2 separate regions of the Homo sapiens genome follow, and region 2 is reported to be linked to region 1. Evidence: microRNA targets listed by miRTarBase, many of them from high-throughput screens and not tested one by one. Region 1 holds a microRNA gene; the other region holds the end of a gene's coding sequence.
Evidence for each region. Region 1 holds the annotated microRNA hsa-miR-376a-5p (GUAGAUUCUCCUUCUAUGAGUA, at 1,431-1,452, opposite strand). A microRNA usually pairs through its seed, bases 2 to 8, with sites in the 3' UTR of a target mRNA and lowers its output. Matches are read on the target gene's strand: a 7mer-m8 pairs with bases 2 to 8, a 7mer-A1 pairs with bases 2 to 7 and ends in A, and an 8mer does both.

Region 1 (3,300 bases):
CAGTGAGGTCCAAAAGTCACTCCAAGGATGGGCTAGGTATGGAGAGTGGGTAGACCAGATGACCCACATCTACATTAGACATTGACTTTGCTGACGGTCATTCTTTCATGTATCTGGGAGATGCACTGACCACGAGACCTCTTCTCAGAGGCTGGCATCATGCTGGGCAGACCTGCCGGAGTAGCAGCCCATGGATGCTTTGTGATAAGTAGGGCCCATCAAGGGAGGCCCTTTGTTCTTTTCTTTTTTTTTTAACCTATTGTGTTGAGACAGGGGTCTCTGTCAGCCAGGCTGAAGTGCAGTGGCACAATCTTGGCTCACTACAACCTCCCAACTCCCGGGCTCAAGTGATCCTCCAGCCTCAACCTCCTAAGTACTGGGACCACAGGCGCACACCATGACACCCAGCTAATTTTTGTATTTTTTGCAGAGATGGGGTTTCGCCAAGTTGCCCACGCTAGTTTCGAACTCCTGGGCTTAAGCCATCCACCGTCTCAGCCTCCCAAAGGGCTGGGGTTACAAGCGTGAGCCACCGTGCCCGGCCAAGGTAGGCCCTTTTTGCTAGGCAGAACAGGTGGTCTGAAGAGAAAACCCTATATCATCTCCAAAGCCAGCATCTCTTCCAGAAAGTTCTTGGAAGGAAGCATGAGATGAGGAGGGTCAGAGAACCAGGTCACAAACAGCAAGACAGAGGCACATGCCCTGTGGTCAACCATCCACACCCCAGGGCTATCCTGGCCATCTAACAGGTTGCTGGAGTCAGCCTTGTTCCCAAGAAGGCTTCCCAGGCAGGATTTGCTCCCCAGAGAGAGTCTGCCCTTGTATAATCATTGCAAGTAAAGCAAATGCGTGAAGGATTACCTCTCTTCAAGTAGCAAATGATGGCAGTGACAGGAAGGCCATTTCCTCTGTGACTAAGTTGCCACCAGCTCCAGGAGCAAGCCTTAGAGACACAGATGGGATCTGCATGGTGAGAGCAGCACACCGAGGTGTGAAGTGCAGGCCCGTGGGTGAATCACACATCTATTCCTTCCATAGCCCCTGAAGCAGTGCCCCTTCCTGAAATTGACAGCCCACTCAGGTATTCTCTAAGGTACAACTAGTCACAGTAAAAGAGGTTCATTCCAGAAAATGCATTGCAATCATGGTAAACATACAGAGAACAAACTTCATTCAAGGTCAATGAGGCAATACTGAGAACACAGCCTTGTAACAACACATTATGTGTGCACCAAGGGCAGTGAGCAAACAGCAGAGAAGCTGACGGCGTATTTCATACAAAGTACAATTCTGTGTCTGTCCGTCCTGTACCCAGGAGGGGTACAGATAACATCTCCTCTTCCATGGCGACTTCACGTCCTCCGAGGTTTTCAAAGCAGCATTTGATACTGAAAACGTGGATTTTCCTCTATGATTAATCATAAATAATGTACTCATAGAAGGAGAATCTACCTTTTAAATACCAAAGAAGGATTCCATCCAGGAAAGCGTGCACCTGTGCTTGAGTCATCAGAAAAGAAAGTCACATGAGGCAGACGAGCTTCCAGGGAAGAACTGGCACCACGAGACCCACAATTTAATCTTCACCAAGTTGGCGTCTCGAGATGGTTCTCGGGCATACCCCGTTCATTCAGATACGACGTGCGGCCTACCATCTTTGCACCTACTCAGGCCCTACGGTCTCTTCCAGAAACATTTCCAAAGCAGCATTTGATACTGAAAACATGGATTTTCCTCTATGATTAACCAGGAATCACGTAAACATAGAAGGAATATCCACGTTTTAAATACCAAAGAAGGACTGGGCTCTGGAAAGGACAAATCTGAACACAGTTCATGGAAAATGGAAGCAAGACAGTAAAGCAACCGTTTTCAGTCCCGTAGCATAGCTGTGACAACACACCACAGCCTGTGCACCAAGCTGGCTCCTCAGCGAAAGGGGGCTTCTAAAGGTGATGGTCAGCAGACATATGGCACGAACTCAGCACATGTTCTGCGGCCCACCATCTTTCCACTTACCCTGGAGGGCTCAGCCCCACCTCACGTCCCTGATGGTGGCTTCAGTCCAGCCATGATCCCAAGGCAGCATTTGATACTGAAAACGTGGATTTTCCTCTATGATTAACCATCAAACACGTAACCATAGAAGGAAAATCTACCTTTTAAATACCAAAGAAGGTTTCATCCCGGAAAGCACGAACCTAAGTACAATCCATCAAACACAAAAGTAACATAGCACAGAGGAGAGCATTCGGCCTCATGGAGAAAATGACGACGGAGCCCAGCCGCTTGGCCGAGCGGGCAGCTTGCGAGAGGGGTCTCCTCAAGGCGGGTGGGTGGTCCGCAGACATATGGCACGAATTCAGCACATGTTCTGAGGTCCACCGACTTTCCACTTACCCTGGAGTGGGGGGGGGGACTTTATTGTCTCTTCCCTGATGGTGGTTTCAGTCCAGGAATGTTTCCAAGCAGCATTTGATACTGAAAACGTGGAATTTCCTCTATGTTTAACCATAAATAACATAAACATAGAAGGAATATCCACCTTTTAAATACCAAAGAAGGATTGAGTCCTGGAAAGCATGAACCTAAGCACAATCTATCAAAATTAAAGACAGCACAGGATAGGTGCAGTCGGCAGGGGCCTCCCGGGCTAGCGGCAGTGACATGGGCCCTGCGGAGGACGCATGTCCCAGGACAGACCTTGCTAACAAGAGCTTAGGTTCTGGGATTCACCTTCCATCACTCTCCGCATGGGGGAGGGAGCTAACCTTCCTCTCAGAAATGTTCAGAAATGTTTTAAAAGCAGCCTTAGATACTGAAAATGCGGATTTTCCTCTATGATTCACCATAAATCCTGTAAGCATAGAAGGAACATCCACCTTTTAGATGGGAAAAGTGGGAACAGCCCTGGAGAGCACAAACGCAAACATGATTCATGAAAGACAGAAGGTAACAGAAGCAGGTGAGCACTTTGCGAGTCCCACGTGGGAAGCGCAGGGCCCACCCCTGGCCTCTTCACATCCAGAGATGGAACTCCTATGCAGGCAAACGTAAGTTTGGGGTCTGCCCTGCTGTCACTCGTCTGGGTGGGGGTAACCCTAATGTCTCTTCCCTAATGGAGGCTTCATGGTCAAGAGCGTTTCCAAAGTAGCATTTAATTCTGAAAAAAAAAAAAAAAAAAAGTGAATGTACATCAAAAATTTGCCACAAGTAAAGCAGGCAAAGTAGGGATTCTATGCTTTGAATTCGAAAAATATCAAAAACAAAAAGAAAATAAGCCTGTCAGGTTCCTAAAGT
Region 2 (3,300 bases), not on the chromosome of region 1:
TTAAAGACTCTTTCCTATTCTCTTCACTTTTACTCCCCCAACTCCCCCCACTTTTTTTTTTTTTGAGAGGGAGTCTCCCTCTGTTGCCCAGGCTGGAGTGCAGTGGCAGGATCTTGGCTCACTGCAAACTCCGCCTCCTGGGTTCATGCCATTCTCCTGCCTCAGCCTCCCAAGTAGCTGGGACTACAGGCACCCGCCACCACGCCCAGGTGATTTTTTGTGTTTTTAGTAGAGATGAGGGTTCACCGTGTTAGCCAGGATGGTCTCGATCTCATGACCTCGTGATCTGCCCGCCTCAGCCTCCCAAAGTGCTGGGCTTACAAGTGTGAGCCACCGCTCCCGGCCCCCTTTTTTCCTACCAATATATGGTTAATGTTCATTCAAAACCATCTTCAAAGTAGCAGTGTCTATATCTAAACAGGATACAGTTTATGAATTTGCCAAAGCACCACCAATAAACAGAGGCAAATTAAGATAAGTTTTACTGTGGACATAATAAAATTCATAATTTATTTGAACATAATCTGAAATAAACCACAATAAATAATTGTAACATGCTCTGGTTTTACAATGGAAACATCAATTTAACTGTTGATAATGTCCCTAAATGTCACTCAGATTTTAAAATCATTTATATTTCAAGAGGAAAGTAAACTGAATACAAAAATGTGTAATTAAAAATGTAAAAACTCTAGAATAAAGTAGGATAGACCCTAAATATTCACTGCCCCAAACCCCCAACAGATGCAGAAATTTTCTCCACAATAACGCTGCAACCATTTCCAGTGCTCGGACTCATTTTCCAAGTCAGCTAAAACCATATCTGCTTTTCACTGTTTCTAAATTTTCCTACATGTTGCAAATTTGTTTTCTTAGAACCTCTGTCCGTAAGTATAAGAATAGATGAAGATTGTATATTTCTAACTAACTAAAATAGTATAATTGGATTGTTTGTAACACAAAGGATAAATGCTTGAGAGTATAGATACCCCATTTTTCATGTGATTATTACGCATTGCATGCCTGTATCAAAATATCTCATGTACCCCATAAATATATACACCTACTATGTACTCAGGAAAATTAAAAATTAAAAAAGTATGAATACACAATCTAGTCATCTGAAAATACCAACTTTAAATATTATTGCAGGCATGAAGTTTTCTAAATGATGTGACTACTTTATAACAAAATTTGCTTTGTTTCAGCATTCTCACTTTTAAAACATACTAATTTGTTTGTTGAAAACTAAAAAGTAAAAATTTTAAAAGAAAGTTTACCTAATGAATCATGATTGTTTCCTAGATATGATATCTTTGTTTTGTAATACTTATTTTATTAGCTCTCTGGAAATCAGGATAATTTGGTTTCATTATTATGCAATGTTACATCAAAAAGTCATTTTAATACATGAAGTCAAGCCAGTCACAAGGATGATGAGTTCCATTCTCCTCAATCTAAGGTTGCTCATTTTATGTCTTGACAAAGACTCTCTCTTTTGACCAAAACTTTAGTCAGGCTCCTCCAATTCCTCTGCTTGACTAGGCCAACATTGGGCTTCCTTTGTTCTTGCAGGATCCAGTTTGAGCAAGAATCCTGTTAAGTTGGCTTAGGGAGAATGCCCCACCCTTGGTATCTGACCGCCCTTGATATCCTATCACACTGGCCTGCCTTCGGCAATAATCCTATCAAGTTGGTATAGCCAGAAACGTCTTACCTTTGATGTTTTTCCTCCTGGTAATAGCCAGAAACCTCTTACCTTTGATGTTTTTCCTCCTGGTAATTTTCCATTCACTGATCCCCACTCTGCTCCTTGGTTATAAATCCCCACTCAGCCTTGTTGAAGTCAGAACTGAGTCCACTCTCTCTCCCTCACTGCAGGATTCCATTGCAGTGGTCCCTATACCTACCACTATGGCCTACCTTGGATAACATCTGCCTTAACATCTTTAACAAGTGTCATGATGAGCTTTTTTTCTTTAACAGTCTTCTCCACTATGCCAGTGTTGGGATATACAATCTTCTCTTCCTTTAAATCCCCCAGTCCCTCCCACTCTCCCTTCCATTTCTACTTTAATTCTCCTACTTAACCTGAAAGCAGAAAACAGCTTGAGCCATTGGAGTCCTAAAAACAATCCCATTAAATAAAAGGCTCATTTTTATCCTATCCTGGAATACTGTGACAAAGAAAATGCCACCACTGTAATCTAGGACGTTTCTTTGAAAAATATTCACAGCTTTCAATTCATTTCAACAATTATTTACTAGGTGCCAGGCACTGGACTAGGACCCAGGCCTTGTGCTAGTACTGCAGATACAATAAGTATGTGTGACATTCTCATCCTTAAAAGTTAGCAATGCCAAAGACTCAGAATGAAGAAAGCTAGGCAATACATGCCCTGTGATGTTTCAGCATGCTCCTAATGACCATGGTATTTTCCCAAGAGTAGATAGTGCATGTAAACAGTGGTAACATCTGTTTACATATGAGAGGTAAACAATTTGGACCTCAGTTAATACACAGATTTTAACTAAAAATTATCATGTTAAGAAAACTTCATCATATTTAGAGATAAAGAATTCGCTTTATTGTATAAATGACAATTTCAACAAGGGTACAAATTAGATATAATTATATAAACTGAATATTTACATCCAATTTACATCCATCATTCTATTAATGAGCACTTTAAATATATAATACAATTCAGAATGATAAAGATATCTACATTAAGGCATCAAAAAGAAAAAAAAAAAGAAAGCAAAGACAGGAAGTCTACTTGCCCACTCAGTAATTAACAAAGATTTATGTAAAATTCCCACAAATTGATCTCAGAATCAGAATCAGCATTTTCTATTAGCAAAAACTGTGAAATACTAGTAATTGTGCTTTATATAAAGCTGTTTGAGGCAATCTGCATAGGAAATATTATCAAGATTCATAATTGCACAAATCTGAAAGGCCTTACATGTCTTATCACATGTTACACTGCTGTCATAACTCACAAAGAAGTAATTGTAGTATTTTATAAACTGCTTACTGTCTAGGATTGTAAATTGTTTAGCTAATCCATATAAACTTTCCGGCTGCAAATCTTCAATGTCGTAGGTCTGGGTCAGGATATACTCCAGCTTCCAGATGGACTCTCCCTTTAGATTCGCCTCTGTCAGATTCAAGTAATACTGCAACATATCCTGCAGTTAAGAACAGTAACAAAACCTGGTTCACTTTTTGGCACATAAGGCATTGTACAACAAGAAGCGTTCATGTTTAAATTTCTGTGACATTTTAGGCTTGGC

Region 2: the mRNA of SMPDL3A is a reported target of hsa-miR-376a-5p. The part of its 3' UTR that is shown has no 7-base or 8-base seed match.

Annotation. Positions count from the first base shown.
Region 1 is chr14:101,038,940-101,042,239 of GRCh38, reverse strand. It overlaps MIR376A1 (microRNA 376a-1), which reads right to left and starts at 1,458; the gene lies at 1,391-1,458. MIR376C (microRNA 376c) reads right to left here and starts at 2,550; the gene lies at 2,485-2,550. MIR376A2 (microRNA 376a-2) reads right to left here and starts at 2,171; the gene lies at 2,092-2,171. MIR654 (microRNA 654) reads right to left here and starts at 2,021; the gene lies at 1,941-2,021. It also overlaps MIR376B and MIR300.
Region 2 is chr6:122,808,986-122,812,285 of GRCh38, reverse strand. SMPDL3A (sphingomyelin phosphodiesterase acid like 3A) reads right to left here. Exons shown (of 8, transcript NM_006714.5): 8 at 2,566-3,195. The coding sequence ends at 2,878. Among named protein-coding and RNA genes, the nearest start is that of SMPDL3A, 21 kb to the right of the region's middle.